4 separate regions of the Homo sapiens genome follow, and regions 1, 2 and 3 are each linked to region 4. Evidence: fine-mapped expression QTL. A gene starts in region 4. Each other region holds a variant in brackets. All regions are shown on one strand. Distances are between the middles of the regions.

What was found. PIP is the estimated chance that this variant, and not a neighbour inherited with it, causes the effect.
Region 1: its variant is the best candidate, but not a certain one, in a credible set for the expression of ACSM1 in whole blood (INTERVAL, PIP 0.65).
Region 2: its variant is the best candidate, but not a certain one, in a credible set for the expression of ACSM1 in whole blood (INTERVAL, PIP 0.64).
Region 3: its variant is the best candidate, but not a certain one, in a credible set for the expression of ACSM1 in tibial artery (GTEx, PIP 0.58).

What each region holds. Positions count from the first base shown.
Region 1 is chr16:20,647,194-20,652,347 of GRCh38, reverse strand. All of the region lies in intron 7 of ACSM1 (acyl-CoA synthetase medium chain family member 1), which reads left to right. Among named protein-coding and RNA genes, the nearest start is that of ACSM1, 48 kb to the left of the region's middle. RefSeq lists enhancers at 897-1,500, 4,139-4,703. The variant A/T (reference allele first, on the strand shown) is at 2,713.
Region 2 is chr16:20,636,004-20,641,157 of GRCh38, reverse strand. ACSM1 (acyl-CoA synthetase medium chain family member 1) reads left to right here. Exons shown (of 14, transcript NM_001318890.3): 8 at 574-697; 9 at 3,707-3,787; 10 at 4,318-4,419. Among named protein-coding and RNA genes, the nearest start is that of ACSM1, 59 kb to the left of the region's middle. The variant G/A (reference allele first, on the strand shown) is at 2,596.
Region 3 is chr16:20,573,655-20,578,808 of GRCh38, reverse strand. ACSM2B (acyl-CoA synthetase medium chain family member 2B) reads left to right here and starts at 2,442. Exons shown (of 14, transcript NM_001105069.2): 1 at 2,442-2,602. The variant G/C (reference allele first, on the strand shown) is at 3,025.
Region 4 is chr16:20,695,653-20,700,806 of GRCh38, reverse strand. ACSM1 (acyl-CoA synthetase medium chain family member 1) reads left to right here and starts at 3,127. Exons shown (of 14, transcript NM_001318890.3): 1 at 3,127-3,171. It also overlaps a transcript of ACSM3 not described here.

The sequences.
Region 1 (5,154 bases), 48 kb after region 4:
TTTTAATTAGACAAAGATATTTTACCTTAATAAGAATGTTAAAAAATTTCTTAAATTGGAAATTACCCAGAAACTTAATATCAAATAATAACCTTAAATCCTAAATTATGACAAGTGTGTTTACAAGCATTTATTCCATTACATGTACCTGATTAATTTAGTAGTTTACCTAGGTTATTTGCAAAAAATTGATAGCCAATATTTTAAGTTATTTTTCTATTAACGATTTTTATAGCTGTGAATTTGAGGTGTTTACTTAAGTAATAAAACTTATGGTTAGTTTTAAGGATATTTATACCAATAATTCAGTATTTAGCTGTTTTCATTTAAGCCAACAATATTTCATAAGCATATACAATCAAAGATCACTCTGTCTTGGGCTGGATTTTATAGTTTATAACACTTATGGCAAATTTTATAGTATTCTGTGGGAATAAACATGAAACCATTTGATCAATAGATGCAAAAAAAATTCTAACAATTCTAAAGACATTGCTGATATTATTTTACCAATAATTTTAAAGCTGGCTAGATACTTACTAAAATAAAATCTTATTTAGTAAAGATTTTACTTAAGTCACATGAACTTGAAAAAGCATTTGACTAGTTTTTTTTGTTTAGTATCTGATTTAAGCACTTTTTAAAGCCAATTAATTAGAGCTCTTCATATGTGTGTTTGTGTGTATATATATAGTATTTTATTTTATTTTATTTATTTGTTTTTTTGAGACAGTCTTGCTCAGTCAGGCAGGCTAGAGTGGCACAATCTCAGCTCACTGCAACCTCCGTCTCCCGGGCTTAAGCAGTTCTCCTGCCTCAGCCTCTGGAGTAGCTGGGATTGCAGGCATGTGCCACCATGCCCAGCTAATTTTTGTACTTTTAGTAGAGATGGGGATTCACTGTGTTGACCAAGCTGGTCTTGAAGTCCTGACCTCAGGTAATGTGCCCACCTCGGCCTCCTGAAGTGCTGGGATTGCAGGCATGAGCCACTGGGCCCAGCCTCTTCATATATTTTTAGTCATGAAAATATTGTATACACACACATAAATATATACATGTATTAGGCATGCTGGTAGAAGCACATCACATAGACTCATAAAGATCTTTTTGTTTTTGCCATTTAAAAAAATCTTACCCTAGGCAGTTGTCAGCTAAATCGTCTTAAATTTGCATATTAAAGGCAACTCAGGTGAAATCAGATAGCAAAATTTACATCATAAGGTATGAAGAGAAAGTCTGGTATGCTAGAGGGAAATTAATTCAACTGCCAATTGAACATAAAATTATAGAAGGCTTTAAATAGGCACACACATGCACACACACACAAAAAGTTCCCATAGCTATTACTTCAGTACTTTAGCCATGGGATAAATACAACTTTGCCAGCTTGCAAAAAGCGGTTAGATCCAAATGGTGGTTTTTATCTCAGTAGAAAAGTAACAGCAGCTTTAAAGCAGGCAGACAAGAAAATAGAAGCTATGTACTCTATAGTCTGCAGGTCGACCTTAGGAATCTTCTTCCTTAATGTAAATGTGCACAAAGACCATATTACTTCCATTTTATATAAACTCTGGCAAGTGGAGGTGCCATAAAACCTACAGAGTGCCCAAAAGAGGGTCATTCTCATTCTCCTTGTTTACTCCTTATTCTTAGATTTTGTTTCCTGCTTTTTTTTTTTTTCTTAAGAGGAGGAACTGAGCTGTAGCCTAGGGCTTTTGTGTGGTGGATCAGTGCATGCTGCTTGTGGGCAGGACTCCACCGTGTATCACTACAGAGTCCTTCCCACCTCCTAGGTGTCTGGGTTTCTCTCTCCAGAGGTCTATGACCTCTGAGAGGGCTCAAAATGCTGGGTAATCAGCCTTTATATGCACTTCCTGGATGAGCAATTTTAAATTAATTTTTGTTGGGGATTTCCCTGTAGGGCCGCTGCACGTTGTGGGGGGTCAAGCTCCCAGACACTCCCACGAGTCCCCTGATCACCCAGGGGCACCTTTTTGACTAGGAGAAGCAAATGACCTTTCTCTTTGGAGCAGAAAAACTCAGTCTCTCATTTATCTGTGAAAACGACACTTCAGTTCCTCATGCAAATGCACTGAGATGAACCAAATCAAGATAAATTTTAGCAGAAAATGCAGGAGAGAATTCCATTTAGAATGCATCTCGGAACTAGAATAAGGATCCTGAAACAACAACTACCTAGGAGAAAACCAACTCAGAATAAATCAAGGACTGTCAACCAAAGGGAAGTCTGGGGTTCAGGAGGACTTACCAGTTCCACCAGAGGAGAAGCTCAAAAGAATAGGCTTCAGTGGGCCCTGCTGGTACCTTAGCTCCAAGTTTGGGCAACTCCTTCAAGGTCCTGAGTCTTCTCTGAGGCCCCACGTGTTTGGGCACCAAACTATTGTTGACAAAGAGTGAATCTCTGTAAAATATGTTTAAAGATTTATTCTGAGCTAAATATGAGCGACCATGGCCTGTGACACAGCCCTCAGGAGGTCCTGAGAACATACGCCCAAGGTGGTCAGGATGCAGCTTGGTTTTGTATATTTGAGGGAGGCATGAGACATCAATCAAATACATTTAAGAAATACATTGGTTTGGTTCAGAAAGGCAGGACAACTCAAAGTGGGGGCTTCCGGGCTATAGGTAAATTTAAACATTTTCTCATTGACAATTGGTTAAGTTTATCTGAAGACCTGGGATCAAAGGAAA[A/T]GTTCAGGTTAAGATAAAGGTTTGTGGAGACCAAGTTTTATTGTGCAGAGGAATCTGTCAGATACCAGACATCAGAGAGAGAGAGAGAGAACAGGTTGTAAAATGCTTCTTACTGGATTTAAAAGAGTGCCTGGCTCTTAGTTTATTATCTCCTGGATCTGGAAAGGAAAGAAGGAAAACAAATGGGAAAGGGGATTCTCTATAGAATGTGGACTTTTCCCACAAGGGACTTTGCAGGGCAGTTTCAAGATATGGCAGAGAAATATGTTCAGGGGTAAAATATTTTGATTTTCTTCCTTGTCTCATAATGGTATGCCAGAGTCAGATTGGAAAGTAAGTCATGATATAAAGGGTTAAATAAAACCCATCTGATGAGAATTTATGGTTTGTAGGGCATGACTCCCTAGACCCTTTAGGTAGGAATTTGGGCAAGATTAAAATAAAATAAAATAAAATAAAACAGAGCTTTGTCCTCACTACCAACATTCTGTGAGGGCCATAGGCTCTTGGACCCCTAAAGGTTCACTATAAAATCACTGACATGAGCCAGATTGATTAACAGGAGAGAAAGATTGCAAATTTATTTAACATGTATACATGGGAGCCTTCAGAATGAAACCCCAACTTCTCGAGGATTTACAGAAATTTTCATACTACAAACCAATACTGAGATAAGTCTCAATCAATTTAGAGGTTATTTTGCCAAGGTTAAAGACATGCCTGTGACACAGCCTCAGCAGATCTTGAGAACATGTGCCCAAGGTGATTGGTCTACAGCTTGGTTTTATATTTTTAGGGAAACATAAGACATCAATTAATACACGTAAGGTGTATATTGGTTTGGTCCAGAAAGGTGGAACAACTCAAAGCAGAGGCTTCCAGGTCATAGAAGGATTTTCTGATTGGCAGTTGGTTGAGTTTATCTAAAGACCTGGAATCAATAAAAGAGAGGGTTAGGATAAAGGATTGTAGAAATAAAAGTTTTTATTATGCAGATGAAGCTTCCAGGTGCAGGCTTCAGAGATAATAAATTATCTTAAGGTCTCTGTTTTAATGTTAATGCTGGTTAGTTTTGCCTGAATTCCAAAGGAAGGAGGGTATAATGAGGTACATCCAACCACCCATTTCCATCATGGCCTGACCTCTTGTCTTAGGATAACTTTGGAATGCAATTGACTGAGAGGAGGGGTCCATTCTGTTGGCTGGGGCTGCTTAAAATTTCATTTTTGGTTTACATTACCATCCTGAGGCTACAGTAAAGAATGCAGACTGAGAGCATGGCCAGAAACAGGTTATGTTGGTAAATCAGGTTGAGTGGCAAGAAAGGTTAAGAGAGAGAGAAAAGAAGAATATTAGCTAGCAAAGCTGGCCTTGTTAGGTACATGAAGACTCCTTCAGAGAGAATAGATGGTAAATGTTTCTTTTCAGACTTTTAAAGTTGTCAGATTCTCAGTCTCTCCTGGATATGAGAAAGGCATAGAAATGTTGGGGTTATCAGGCCCAACACCAGGTGGTGGGGGTAATGAAGTCCGGCAGAGTCAAAGGATTGAGAAAAAGACAATTTGAGAAGTAAAGTGGGAGCAGGGGGCCATCGCGACTGTGGAGGCTGCAAAGTTCCTGAGCTCTGGGAGCCCATGCTATTTATTGGTAATCCAACAAAGGAACAGGTGGTGAGAATGAGGAGGTCAAAAGGGCAGGTGCATGATGAACAGCTGTGATAGTTTAGCATTTATAAGGAACGTGTTCTGCTACTTGTGATAATGGGAATACAATGGATCTAGGAGACTAGGAAGGCTAGAAGCAAGGAGCCAGAAAGTCTAGACACATTCCAGAGGACATTATGTCAGACATGCAAGCCCTGCCTCAGTTTTCTTCCCAATATTCAGCTTTTTCCCAACATGCCCCCTTTCTCTTTTTTGTAAAAGAGAAATGTCATTATTACTATCATTATTACTAGATATCGTAATTAGTAGCATAAAAGTTGGCCTCTTTTAATTGAGAAGGCAATTGCAGGCTGTGAAGGCTTGAATTGCCAGTTGGTCATCCAGCTTCATTTTTCTTAGCCCTTATTCAAACTGGAGTCACTCTGGTTTGAATGCTTCCCACATATCTCCCCTTTCCCTTTTACAAGAGGACCCTTAATCCTAGGGGTTACAGAAGGATGAAGGTCTATCTTCTGTAACTTCATGCTGAATAGAGGTGATGATATTCCTGCCTAACTATTAGGGTCTCTTGTATTCAGGTAGAAAAGAGCTGAGTCAGGACGCATTGGTCCATTAAGCATGCATGACTCTAGTCGGTCTTCATTCCTTCTTTGCATTCAGGTTCAGCTGGCTCATGGCTCATACTGGGCGAACCCGGTCCAAGGTTTTAATCCAAGTGTCCCTCCAGTCTCCCATTCCATGGTCATGCACATCTTGAGGGCATCCACATGGTTCATTT
Region 2 (5,154 bases), 60 kb after region 4:
ATTCCTTCTGTCAGGGCTGTACCCTGTAATGCTTCTCCCTCTCTCTTTCCCTACTCAGCTTAATCTGCTCTGATGTCCTGAGCAATTCACTTCCAATCCCTAACATGCATTCCCCATTCAGAAATACAAAAGCCCTTTAGTTAGCGTAGTGTAAGCTCCATAAAAGAATGTATAGTTCTATTATCACCCTAGCATGTCCTTAAGATCTCATCCTTTACCCCATTATGATTATAAAAATGTCCTTCTTAGCTATACAGAATGCTTCCCCAAGAGGAGTTCTGATAAACACACAGTTCTCCCTCTTGTTACACTGATATCCAAATTTAATCCAAACATTCCCAATTGAACACAATAGCCTCACCACCACCCATCCACCGTCTGCCAGAATAGTTCGCAGGGACTGGCAGGAAGTGAGTGACATCCACTTGGCCATGGCCAACTGTAAAATGACCAAAAAGTAAATAAGAAAGTGAGGAACTAGAAGGATGAATGATCTGGGTGACAGACTTAAGAGCTCTGAATGCACAGAGCCAGGGTGGCTCACCAATGCCTGGCACCTTGTCTTCCTCTAAGCATCAGGTTCCCTGCCCTGGAGCACTGCTATACTGGCGGGGAGGTCGTGTTGCCCAAGGATCAGGAGGAGTGGAAAAGACGGACGGGCCTTCTGCTCTACGAGAACTATGGGCAGTCGGAAACGGTAGGTGGTGCAAACCAGAAAGTGTCTGAGACAGGTCTCAATTAATTTAAAAGATTATTTTGCTAAGGTTAATGACACGCATCTGGGAAACAGGTTTGTGCCTTTCCCCAAAGATGATTTTGAGGGCTTCAATATTTAAAGGAGAAAAGGCAGATATTGGGGAAAAAGGAAGAAATTTTCTAAAGGTGGGGTAGTTACGAGGCAAATTGTTGCCTTCTTGTGAGTCTTTGATCAGCTGTTTACATGTGAGAGAAGGGTAGAGGAAGAGTCACTTGTGCATTCATCTAGATCAGTGAATCTGCATTTTTACATAAGATAAACGTAAGTCAGAGAAAGCAACTAGGTACATATTTGTCTCAGGTGAGCAGAGAGATGATTTTTGAGTTCTGTTCTTTGTCCTATACGTGTGAAGATGAGCTATAAATGTCAGGGTGAAATTTAGCAGAACTGTTTGACAGTAACGATCTTGGGGCCCACAAGGAATTTCTTAGTGGGAAAATTGTGGCGGAGGCATGTAGTTTTGTTTTGTTTTTTATCTTTTTAGCTCTTGTTTAGGAATAAAATGAGAGGCAGGTTTGACTGATGCAGTTCCCAACTTGAGTTTTCCCTTTGGCTTAGTGATTTTGGGGTTTGTTTTCCTTTCATAGTGGAAAGGTCCCTTCTGGATAGTCATGATGTGCTCAGCGATTGAGCCCAGCAGATGTGCTGAATTATGCCACATGTGCGGGACACAGCCCCATCGCATGCACAGCATTGTTTGATGCCAACCAGAGGCTCTAGAGTTCTAGGCTAATTTGTCCCAAATCTATCTGCAGAAAGAAAATGTACAACTCGTCATCTTACCAAGGGACTAATGTGCTTAAAACTCTTGGACAAAACCTTAAAAAGGGGTCTAAGGGCGTTTTCACACTGTCCCTGTTATCATCAGCTCAGAGGATCCCCAGAGGGTGGGTGGGATAGGAGACTCTCTCCAGCAACATGGAGACCACCTCCTCCAGGAAGTCCTGTCAACTCCACTAACCCTCCCTAGGGCTGCAGAGGCAGGAGGAAGCTGGCTCAAAAAGTGCATTGCTTGGGGTTTAGGAGGACAACTCGCAGGTTTGACTGTGGGATACTAGCAGGGTGGGTGAGGAGCAGGGACTTTCTGTATATGCCAAACACATGTACACACAAACAGTGTCATTCCAGAGTATCACTGAGCTGCCAGGTGAGTGGGGCATTTGGAGTACTATGCATGTCTGGAAGTTCAAGGACCTCATCAATTACAGTGTGGGTGAGCATCTCTTCCAACATATTTGCAATCCATTTCCAATGCTGGACAGAGCCACTTTCTCCCTCTGTCTCCATTATCCCTCTAGCACATAAAGGATGACTGCTATCCCAGGCCCTGTGCAAAATTATTACTTTAGTGCCAACTCACATACTCAGCTGACATTATTTTGTAAAAAATATATAGCAATTCAGTTAATTTGTCTGCTTCCAGACCTGAAAAATGCTGACACTTCGGGCCTATGTTTGAATGGCTCACAGGTCATATTTGGACAAGGAGGAGGGTGGGCCAGGAAGACACACTCCACCCACGACTCCAATATTTGCAGCACTAGGTGGTGCTTAATTTCTGAAAACACTTTCACATCTGTTCACTCATGTGTGCAACGTTTTTCACATGCCTACAGTGTGAGCAGTGATGTGGCAGTGGGCAAAGATCTTCCTATCCCAGGAGCACAGACCTGGGTCCAAGTCTCAGCTCTGCCAATTACAGCTTGAAGACCATAAGGATATTATGTATGCTTTCTCACCTCAGCTCCCCCACCTTTAAATGGAAATTATAATGCCAATCTTAACAGATTGTGATAAGGTAAATAAAAAGAAGTATATAATGCTCTGGCTGGTGTCCC[G/A]CCTGTTGTATATGCTCACCTTGCAGCTGCTGTGGTCCTTGCTATTTTTGGTGGCTATTGTTCCAGATTTTGGAAGCTCAGGGATAAATAGGGCAGTCTCTATTCTTGGGATGCTCATTATCTACTGAAGGAAACAGACAAACAAAAATAATTATAATGCCCTGTGGGCTGCAATGGAAGTATAGGAGAAATGCTGCAGAAAGAGAATCTTTCCCTTGACTTCTCTTGTAGCTTGAGTAATAGCCAGTAGTCATCATTCATTGAACACGTGGTGTGTGCCTTGTATTATGCAGAATTTTCCATATGCTTACAAGCACTCTGGGAGGTAAGTGTTATCATTATTACCCTTTGATGGAGGAGATCAAGAGGGATTCATTGGCATGCATTTAGTGTGTGGTGGAGTCAAGGGTCAAACCCTCATTGGTCTGAATGTAAAGCACGCAGCTACAGAAATAAATATATTTGTGAGAACAATAAAGGAGGAATCAAGTTCATCAGGAAGAAAGATGAAGATAGGGCAGTGCTAACAGAGAGAACAGCACAAGCAATCCAGACAACCTCCACACACACTGGGGCATCCTGCAGGGTGAGATTCACAGGCCTCTTCCTACGGATCACTGATGACAAAGGCAACATTCTGCCACCCAACACAGGGGGAAAAGTTGGCATCAGGATCAGTCAAGAAGTTGTGGCAGAATCCCTATCACTGCTCAACAGCCCCAAGTAAATGTTTGTTAGATAGACTAGTGGTCTTCCCCTAGCAAACTGACACATGCCTGTTCAATGGTGGGCATGCCACACCCCACATTATATGCCCACAGCCAGGGGAATACCCTGTTTCTTCTTTCTTTGTTTCCCCATTGGATTCTGTAGACTCCACTTAGTACAGAGCCAGACCACACTGGCTGCAGAAAATGACTGTGGAATAGAGTTGGGTCAACACCTTGAGCCTAGACTAAGGCCTTCCAGCTTCCCTACGAGGGCTCTTTGGGCAGCATCCATTGAGAGGAATACTACATCTCTGAGCAGAGGATGCTGTGTATGATTCTGACTGCTTTGTGATCAGCCTGGCCTCTCTGATCAACCCAAATCTTCTTTCTTTTGTGAACAGGGACTAATTTGTGCCACCTACTGGGGAATGAAGATCAAGCCGGGTTTCATGGGGAAGGCCACTCCACCCTACGACGTCCAGGTCTGGTCCTAAGGGCATTGGCAGGGAGCAGTTAGGGCTCAGCGGGGGTTGGACAATTTGACACCAGGTGACAACACCAGCCGCACTTCCCTGCTCCAGTCATCCTTCCTCCTCTCTTCTCATTTATCCCTTCAGTTTCATATGGAGGCCTCAGTTGAAAACTGCATTATTGTGAGCATGAACACCGCTGACCCTGGCAGCCAGGGCATCACACACAGTAGGTAGGAAAGAATACCTAGAGGCTGCACTGGGAGCCCTCTCTAGCAAGTGGTGCTTTTCATTTTTTTTGATCACTGTTTTCCAACTTGAAGACACATTGGTGACATCTACTAACTCATGAAACATAGACCCTTGGCTTGAGTTTCACATTTGCGTATTTTAAAGGCTTTTGACAGTTTTATTCCATTTTCTGATGTTTCCTCTGTTATTTCATCCACACTGGTGTCCCATGCATAAACCAGACAGTGCTTGGGTGGGGCAGAAGGGCTGCGGCCTCCTGCAGTGTATGATTCACAGGCCTCTTGCTACAGGTCATTGATGACAAGGGCAGCATCCTGCCACCTAACACAGAAGGAAACATTGGCATCAGAATCAAACCTGTCAGGCCTGTGAGCCTCTTCATGTGCTATGAGGTAATGACCCCCCATCTGCCCCCATCCTGGCCCCAAGGATCCCAACAGGGAGCTCTGCATCCTGAGGCTTCTTCAAGTCCTCTTTTATTTGCTCTAACTCAATGAAATGAATGAGTTTTCATTCAACTCGAAGCTCACCGTGCATTCTCCCATCCTTTCCTGTCTGAACCCACCTGGAACTTTTGGGATGTTGGGGTAGAATGAAGACTGGCTTCAGAACCATCAGACTTGGGTTTCAATGATCTACTGTAGTCAAGAATATAGGCTTTGACTGGATTCAAATAATACCATCTCACTTACCAACAACAGAGTGTAAACAAATCACTTATCCTCGCTGAGCCTCCAGGGAACTCTATTATCCCATTTTACAGAGAGAAAAGCTGCAGATTAAAAGCCCTGCACATCTTCTGCACATCAAATAAATGGTAGGTTTAGGATTAAAAAAAAGTAAAAACCAGAGATTATAGAAAACTGAGATGGATTACAAGGAAACCTGCTGAAACTCCTGATCAAATAAGCAATGGCCCTCCCAGGATAGGAATGGCCACAAAGAGGAAAATCTTAGCTCCCAATATTGGCCATGGAAGGATGACCAGACCCTGAAATTGATTTCAGACTTCATCTCCTTTCTCTAAAGACACTTTCATTGGCGGCTGTCCTGGTGTCACTGCCATCCTCACACTGTGGTTTCAAGGGAGCGATGGTTCCTTTGTGATACTTTTGACCAAAGGGGAA
Region 3 (5,154 bases), 120 kb after region 4:
GCCAGGGAGTAGGGTATTGCTATAAAGATACCTGAAAATATGACAGCAGCTTTGGAACTGGGCAATGGAAAAGGTTGGAAGAGTTTGGATGGCTCAGAAGAAGACAAAGAGTTGAGGGAAAGTTTGAAACTTCTTAGAGATTGGTTAAATGGTTGTGACCAAAATGCTGTCAACGTAAAATAGTCAAAAGAGTCAGCATCTAGTTAAAAGAGCTCATTCAAGCACAAAGTATGAGTGCGGCCATCCAGGGAGCACAGCTATTCCAAAGAATGGTGAGCAGTGTTGTGCTCCTGGTGTAGGGGAAAATGAGGATTGCTTATACCAGCAAAATGAAGTTGCTGAACAAAATTACAACATTTTCCATAAAAAAGGTTAACATACAGATATAAGATTTCATTGGCTACTTTTGATTACACGCTAAAGGGATAGTTTTACATTCTATTAAAAGGAGACAGTCACAAGGGTCTCTATCTTCACTTTGTTTAGCGCAGTTTTGAATAAAGAAGAGTCTGGTTAATGTATAACATCTCAACACAAAGGTCAGAAAGCAACGGTCATGCACCAGAATCAGGGGAAGTTGTGTTACCTCAGTCAGCTTTCAGGCCTTAAGTTTTCCCTTTTGCATGATAAATTTGGAAGGTCCTAAATTTAAATTTTTTACAATGCTGATAGAAATATAGACAGTACAGGCCATGCCAAAAAATCTCAGATAGAAATGAGAAACTCATTGGAAGCTGGAGCAAAATTCACCCATGTTACTCTGTAGCAAAGAACTTGGGTGCACTGTGTCCATGCCCTAAGGCTTTGTGGAAGGCTGAACTAAGAGTGATGACCTACGGTGTCAGATGCAAGAGATATCTAAGCAGCAAAGTGCTCAAGAAGTGATGTGGTTACTTTTAACAGCTTATGTTAAATTGTGACAGCAAAGGAATGACCTAAAGCCTGTGTTTATAATTAAAGGGGAAGAAGAGCATTAAAATTTGGATAATTATCAGCCTGCACATAGTGGTAGAGAAGAAAAGAGAATTTTCAGGAGAGGAGTCCAAGAAAGTGTCAGAACAACTCTGCTAAAGCATGACCAAAAGGGGGCCTGGTGCTAATAGGATAATAGGAAGAAGGTTCCAAAGGCATTTCAGAAATCTTTGGGGCTGCTCCTCCCATCACAGGCCCAGAAGACTAACAAAGACAGAATGGTATTAATTCTGCAGGCACCCAGAATGTAGGGGCCATAGATGCTTGGTGGTAAGATCCTCTACAAAGAATTCCCTCTAGGGAAATGCCTCATGAAGCCATGGGAGTGGGGCCACCCCCAAGACACAGAACTGTAGGATCACCAATTTGCAACTCTAGCCTGAGAGAGCTGAAGCATGGGCTGATACCAGCTATAAGACAATGTTGGCCATGCATGGTGGCTCATGCCTGTAATCTTTGGGAGGCCATGATGGGAGGATCACTTAAGTTCAGGAGTTCAAGACCAGCCTGGAGAACATAGTGAGACCACGTCTCTATAAAACGTTAAAAAATTAGCTGGGCATAATGGCATGTGCCTGTAATCCCAGCTGCTCAGGAGGCTGAGGTGGGATGGTTGCTTGAGCACGATAGATTGAGGTTGCAATAAGCTGTGATCAGACTACTGCACTCCAGCCTGGGCAACAAAGTGAGACACTATTTCAAAATAAAATAAATATGAAGAGATATAAAGAGTTTTTTTCCCTGTTGAGTTTTGGGCTTACTTGGACAGTGTTGGGTTGGGTTGGAACAGGGAAGAGAATGGGTCAGACTCTGAGTGTAGCCTGCAGGTGGATCTGATGGCTTTTTCACATCCATGTGAGAAAGAAAAGAGTCAGGGCAGTCTCTAAGATTTGATGTTGGAAGAACTAGAGGAATAGGGGTGACATTTGCTGAGATGGATAAAACCATACCTGGAATGAGAGTGGCCAGGGAAGGATGTGATCAACCTCTTAGCTTTGGACAAAGTATGTTTGAGATGCCTGTTAGATATCCAGGTGGAGAAGTCAGGAAGATGAGGATGCAGGAGAGAAAACCAGGTTGGATACACACGTGTGGGGGCCATTGGCAAGCCACATGGTATCCAAGCTATGACATTTGATGAGATAATGTACAGAGTGAACGTGGATAAAGATGAGGAGGAATCAGCAAAAGAGAAGGAAAGCAAGAGGAAAACCAGGCAAAAGTGGTATGCTGGAACCAAGCAAAACAAAGAATTAAAGGAGTGTTCATCAAGCCTATGTGAGCTCCATTTCTCTCTCTTGGGTTGAAGCAATAATTTTCTGTCAGTCCTGGGCATAAACCTGCTTCATGCCCCTTGGATTGAAAGTGCAAGTCCAGTTGACCTCAAATGCTCTAATGTTGTAATGTCCATAAACTTGGCTAGGAGGACTGCTGTTACCCTTTGTAAGACTCCAAAGTTATCCACTGTCAATGATTAGCTGAGCTCTCTTTCCGACAGTGCAGGGATTCTGAAGCTGTCTGCTTGAGTTACTGTGCTCTCTTCCAAGGCTGTAGGAGTTCTGGAGCTGCTGGCTGGAGAGGAGGGTGGACGAAGCTCTCTCCAGAAAGACATCCTGAGAGGACTTGGCAGGTGAGCACTGTTTCAAGGAATGGGCTGATGGGGTCATAATCCATGATAACCTCACCAATCTTTTAGAGTCACAGCTGGTGAGAAGAGCAAAAATCCTCACAGAAAAGCAGAAATTCCTAGGGACCATGAAAGACAGTACCTGCCAAGTCTTAGGAGGAAACACTGGGCAGAGGAAAAGGCACGTTTATGGCAGCAACAGGGAGAGACGAGGGCAGCTGGAAAAAGGTGGTAACAGGGGGCTGGTAGTTGGGTGGTGGTCAGAGAAGGATGAATCCCAGAGGAGGTGAGACCAGAAGAATGAAGAAGAGCTTATTATGGAAAAAGAGAGGGACCAGCAGGTACAAAGGCAATGTGTAGTTCTGCTCAGGAGCTGGTACAGTAATCTTCAATTCTTATTCCATAGAAAAAAAGGAGACAGAAAT[G/C]TCAGACACTGTGATGGTTAATACTGAGTGTCAATTGATTGAATTGAAGGATACAAAGTGTTGATCCTGGGTGTGTCTGTGAGGGTGTTGTCAAAAGAGATTAACATTTGAGTCGGTGGGCTGGGAGAGGCAGACCCACCCTTAATCTGGGTAGGCACCACCTAATCCAGCATGACTAGAATATAAGGAGGCAGAAAAATATGAAAAGAGAGACTGGCCTAGCTTCCCAGCCTAGATCTTTCTTCCGTACTGGATGCTTCCTGCCCTTGAACATCAGACTCCAGGTTCTTCAGTTTTGGAACTCAAACTGGCTCTCCTTGCACCTCAGCCTGCAGATGGCCTATTGTGGGACCTTGTGATCATGTGAGTTAATACTGAATAAACTGTATATATATATACAGTTGTGTATATATATATACACACATACATATGTTAATACTTAGTAAACTCATATATATACTTATATATATGAGTTTATATGTATTACTTATACATATGAGTTTATAAAATATATATATTCCATTAGTTCTGTTTCTCTAGAGAACCCTGACTAATACAGATTTTGGTACCAGAAGTGGTTCTAGAGGAAAAGAATATTAAGGATGGAGTTCTTTTGTTGGTTTTGGGGTTTCTGGAGTTGGTGCCTTAATATGATTAGACCCCAAAATACTAAGGACTCTAATTCTAATAGTATGGAGAAGACTGATAGCCCTTGGTGTGAACTGTTTAAAGAGTTATACAAAATAAATGCATTTGACACTCCTGATTCATTGCTCATGAGAGGCAAGGAGTTTAGTGACCCTATACATCATACCTTTGACCATATGTGGAGAACTAAGGAACATAATGAAGCTGGTTGGTTGCTCCTAAGTTCAGTGGATAAAGTGATGAAAGAAAATGATGAACTCGGGGATTCTATCTCCCAGCTTCAGAAGCAGATACTGAGCCTCAAATCTGCCAAGATTGCCCTGAGTGAGAGTCTAATCTCCTGTAGAGAAAGAACTGAAATTGTGGAAAAATAGACATAAGCTCTTATCATGTTAGTGGCTGACCTGCAATGAAAGGTGCATGCACAGCCTCACCATGCACAGCCTCGCCAAGTATCTACTGTTAAAGTGAGGGCATTGATTGTTTTGCAGGAAGTCAGGGACCCTGAATGGAGGGATCGGCCAGAGCTGAGGCAGAAGAACATAAATTGTGAAGATTTCATGGATATTTATCACTTCCCAAAATTAATACTTTTATAATTTCTTATGCCTGTCTTTACTGCAATCTCTGAACATAAATTGTGAAGATTTCATGGACATTTATCACGTTCCCAATTAACACTCTTATAGTTTCTTATGCCTATCTTTACTTTAATCTCTTAATCCTGTTATCTTCATAAGCTCAGAATGTAATTCACCTCAGGACTACTATTGCACAAATGGATTGTAAAACATGTGTGTTTGAACAATATGAAATCAGTATACCCGGAAAAAGAACAGAATATCAGTGATTTTCAGGGAACAATGGAAGATAACTATAAGGTCTGACTGCCTGCGGGGTCGGGCAGAATAGAGCCATATTTTTCTTCTTGCAGAAAGCCTATAGAAGGATGTGCAAGTAGGAGAAATATTGCTGAATTCTTTTCCCAGCATGGAAGAACCCTGGGGAAGGAATGCATTCCTGGGGGTAGGTCTATAGATGGCCGCTCTGGGAGTGTTTGTCTTATGCGGTTGAGATAAGGATTGAAATACGCCCTGGTGTCCTGCAGTACCCTCAGGCTTACTAGGATTGGGAAATTCCAGCCGGGTAAATTCTAGTCAGAGTGGTTCTCTGTTCTCAAACCCTGTTTCCTGTGAAGATGTTTATCAAGACAATGTGTGCACAGCAGGACATAGACCCTCATCAGTAATTCTAATTTTGCCTTTGCCTTGTGATCTTTACTGCCCTTTGAAGCATGTGATCCTTGTGACCTACTCCCTGTTCGTACACCCTCTCCTCTTTTAAAATCCCTAATAAAAACTTGCTGGTTTTGCTGCTCGGGGTCACCATCATAGTCCTACCACTATGTGATGACAGCCCCAGAGGCCCAGCTGTAAAATTTCTGTCTTTGTACTCGTTCTCTTTATTTCTCAGACCGGCCGA
Region 4 (5,154 bases):
GTTTTACTTTCCTGTATTACTTTATTTCAAAATCAAGTCACCAAGAAAATGAGTTACTTAATAGGATCATGTCTCTTTCCTCCTAAAATCTTCACGAGACTTCCATGCACCCACCCATTGCACTTAGAATAGAATCCAAACTCCTTATTATGTCCATAAAGATCCTTAATGGCATGTCTCCTGCTTGTGTCTCTGACCTCACACTTTATCATACTTCTCACTCAGTAATCTGCCATCCCAGTCCCCCACCTATGCCTTGAAAATGTCAGCCTCAGGCTTTGCACTTGCTGTGGCTTTTGCCTGGAGTTCTTTTTCCCTAGCTGGCTGCTTCTCCTCCTTCAGGTCTCAAAATGTCACCTCTTAAGGGAGAACATCCTTAGCCACCTCCCCACACTCTCTCCATCATATTGCCCTGTTCTGTTTTCTTTTTGGCAGTATCACCATTTGAAATCCTCTTGCTTATTTAATTGACTTTTTGCTTATTGGCTTTTGCCTTTCTATCATAGGCATGTAAACCTCTTGAGAGCACCAACCTTGTCTTACATGTTTAAAGCACGCCTAAATGTTCCTTAAATATCCACTGAATGAATGAATGTATCATAGGTTTTCTATAATAAGCAGACGATAGCAAGTTCAAAAAGCTGAGGTTGGTAGGATATTTAGCTACATGAAGTCACTCAGAGAACAAGGCTGATAGAGACTTTGCCATTTTACGATGTCACTATCTCCATATATGGTTTCCAGGAGCATTGAATCAGGGGAAGAGAGTACAGAAAACTCATACCTGCTCTTAAATAAATGCCCTAGGCCAGAAGTGACTTGTAACACTTCCACATGGAGTTTATTGTTCAGAACTAGAGTTTAATGGCCTCACTTTAGCTTTAAGAGAGGTTGGGAAATGAAAGAGGAGCACACATAGAATGTTTGGAGAGTTTTCCTTTGTCCGCTGTATACCTCTTGTTAAAGATGAGAAAATTGAGGAAAAGAGGGATAAGAAATCTGCTCAATGTCACAGAGCTGGTAACTGGTAAAAGCTAGACTCAAGCCCAGGCTGCCTGGTGCCAGAGCCTGTCTTCTTGTCCATGCCTTCATGTTGCAGTTCCACAGGGGAGAACTACTCAGATGCAGAGAGTGTGTCAAGGGCTTTTCCCCCGTCTCCATTCTTTTCCGAAAAGTGGCTGCTCCTTCTCTTTAGTAACAGAGGTTTTTTGGTTAGTTGTTTTGTTTGTTCGTTTCTTTGTTTTTTGGTACTTTGATGCTTTGGGTGTTTAAGGTTTAGCTTACCATGGCCAGTCAACTAGCCCTGCCTTCTCACCTCTCCAGTGACTGGCCACAGAAAGCTAAATATTAAAAACCCAAACTATCCTAGCTTGCCACACGGTCCTGTCAGGAATGTCCTGGGTGTCTCCAGAAATCTTTAGCCATGACTTTGATCAGAAATAATTTCTTCCCAGCTTCAATGAAAATACTGGAGATCCCTCATTCTCTAACAATGCCCCAAAAATGGCTCCAGTAGAAAAGTCATAGTACAAGCCGCTACCTATGACTACCTTGGTTTATCCAATGCAATATCACTATCAACCCTCCATCTAAATGCCTGGTCCAGGTGCTTTACAGGCTTGGTGTCACATAATCCTTTCAATGATCCCATGCAACAAATCTTATTAACAAATCCTGCTTCATTTTACAAATGTCAAGACCAAGCTTTGAAAGGAAAATGGTTCACCCAAGAGCTTTCTTGTGAGTGCCTGAGGTTGGACTTAATTAAGCTCAAGACTTTGGGATTCCAAAGACCCTGCATTTTACCAGGATACCAAATTGTTCCTCTGAGAATCCCAAGTGAATAAAAAGAGCCAACATCGACTATGCCCAGCACCGTGTGCTACATGCTTTTTATAAATTATTTCATCTAGTTCTAACAAACAAATGAAGAAGCAAAGAAAACACCCTGGGAGGTAGGTATTGTTGTTATCATTCCTATTTTACAAATAAGGTAGGTGTTGGGTGCTGTGGCTCATGCCTGTAATCCCAGCACTTTAGGAGGCTGAGGCGGGCAGATCACCTGAGGTCAAGAGCTCAAGACCACCCTGGCCAACATGATGAAACCCTGTCTCTATTAAAAATACAAAAATTAACTGGGTGTGGTGGCGGGCACCTATAATCCCAGCTACTTGGGAGGCTGAGGCAAGAGACTCAATTAAACCTGGGAGGCGGAGGTTGCAGTGAGCCAAGACCATGCCATTGCATTCCAGCCTGGGTGACAGCATGAGATTCTGTCTCAAAAGCAACCGAAAACCAATTAAGGGAGGTGAGGCCCAGAGCAAGAAGGTCCACAAAGATGACATGGAGGTTAAGTGGCAGACCTAAGGCTCAAACTCAGACCTTTCTGCCTCCAGACCTCCAGAGCCCAGGCTCTTATCCATTAGGCTACACTGACTCTCAGCTGTCATTTAAGGGAGACTATGGTGATGTAGGGCTGGGAAGGGGGAGCAGGTTAGCCACAGAGAACTAGTGAAAATGCACCATTGGATCTAGTTCATTCACACCCCTAGCCATGCCACCGGAATTGGAGGTGACTTCGTATACGTGGTTTGTTTTTCTTTTTTTTTTTTTTTTTGAGACAGAGTCTCTGTCTCCCAGGCTGGAGTGCAGTGGCATGATCTCGGCTCACTGCAAGCTCCGCCTCCCGTGTTCACGCCATTCTCCTGCCTCAGCCTCCCGAGTAGCTGGGACTACAGGCGCCCACCACCACACCCGGCTAATTTTTTGTATTTTTAGTAGAGACGGGGTTTCACCGTGTTAGCCAGGATGGTCTCCATCTCCTGACCTCGTGATCCGCCCGCCTCGGCCTCCCAATGTGCTGGGATTACAGGCGCGAGCCACTGCGCCCGGCCCACATGGTTTGTTTTCTAAGTGATTATCTCTCCGTGGAGGCCTGTAATTGTTTCTGTCCTATTTTACCTGAGCATCTCCTCCCCCTACTGAATTACCCAATTCCTAACAAGTTCTCTGTTCAAGGTCCCCCTTCGCTGTGGCCAGAAGCCAAGTTCTGCTGGGTGCACAATCCTGCGGATCACCTGATCAGAGAGAACTGAACCTACAAAAGAGAGCTCAACCTCCTTTTCCATACCTACCAGGGACCTAGTTCAGCTACGTCCTAAACAGTACCAGGTAAGACAGAGGTGAAGGTCAGCTTCTATCTGTGTGTGTGTGTGTGTGTGTGTGTGTGTGTGTGTGTGTGTGTGTGTGTAATCCAATTTTAAGTTCTGGCAATGCTACTTTTAAGTTGAGTGACCTTGGGCAAGTCACTTAACTTCTTGGCACTTCATTTTAGAGGCAAAATGACAATGGTGATATTGGGTGAGAGGAATAAATAGGAACGTACATGTAATATGTTTAGCACAGTGGCTGGCATGTAAATGGGGACTGGTTTAGTGTCAGGCAGCTCTGAATGTGGTGAGCCGTGGGAGACAGGCACAAAGTCAGAGATGAATGTTTGAAGGAAATCTTTTCTATCTATGCAGAAGTTGGCTCACTTTCTATAAAGTGAATGCCTTCTAAAAAAAATTATCCAAGCATAGTAATACATGCCTGTGGTCCCAGGTACTTGAAAGGCTGAGGCAGGAGGATGACTGTAGCCCAGGAGATTGAGGCTGCAGTGAGCTATGATCACACCACTGCACTCCAGTCCAGGTGACAGTTTCAAAAAAAATGGTTAACATCTAATGGGGAGGGGGTTGGCTTCAGAATTTGCTGGGAGTTAAAAGGTACCTCAACATTTATTGAGTCCTTACCGTGCACTTCATTCAGTGCCAGCAAGTAAATTATCACACTAATCCTTATGGGGAGCTGGGAAGAAGGTATTACTACTGTGCGCTTAAGTTCAGAGACATGAACAGCACCAAAGACCCAGCTGCTAGACAACAGAGACAAACATCTAGCCCTGGCTCTGTAACTCTGGGATACCCTATAACACAGTAAGTATGTTGCTTCATTAAATAGCTTTATCAGTCCCAAGTCCTGTGAAGTCAAAGCTTAGTTGCAGGAGCTGTTCAAGGCACTATGTATCTGGGAATACAGTGGGGAGCCCAGCTGCCTCTCAAAGCTACCATGTCAAATTGCTTTCAGAATGCACTTTAAGCAGTTCAGAAAATTGTTCTTTAAAATGATTTCATAGGATGTGCTTTAATGATATGCTCTAACAGGGTAGGAACTCTTTCAGTTTAATTAATCTCCAATAGTATCTAAAACTGTACATGGTACATCTATAGTAAATACTTGAGAAAGAAAAAATACATTTTTCTATAACTCAGATAATTTGTGGGCACACTGGCTTTTCTCTTTCTGACTTTCATCACTCAGTTTTCTGAATTATGACAAAGAAGGGAAGAATCTAACTTTTTGTTGAGCACTTACTATGTCCAGCACGGTGAGAAATAGACAAACTAAGCTTTGTGAAGTCAAATCTGAAGACAGATGTGGATGGAAATAGATATCGAAACAGAGACAGAGACGGAGATAGAGATAGAGACAGAGATAGTGATAGAGATAGAGACATGCATCACTTAACAACCAAGATACGTCTGAGAAATGCATTGTTAGGTGATTTTGTTATTATGGGAACTCATAGAGTGTACTTACACAAACCCACAAAGCATAGTCTTCTACACATATAGGCGATATGCTATAGCCCATTGCTTCTAGGCTACAAACCTATGTAGCTTGTTGCTGTATTAAATACTGTAGGCAGTCATGACACGATGGTAAGTACTTGTGTATTGAAACATAGAAAAGGTACAGTAGAAATATGTCATTATAATTGTATGGGCCACTCTGTATATGTGATCCATCACTGACAATGACATCATATTGTGGCACATGACTACAGTGTACATGTGTTATTGTTATAGACATTAATATTAATGTATAGATATACACAGATAGTGATATAGGTATAAATGTAAATATTGGTATATAGATACAGAAATAGATTTAGAAATGAAGCTTAACATACATACAGAGATAGAGATAGACGCAGACATAGACATATAGATATCTGATTTTCAGTCCTCAACACTTGGAGATCAGGTTCTTATATATCTAGATAGATAGATAGATAGATAGATGATAGATAGATAGAAAATAGGTAATAGG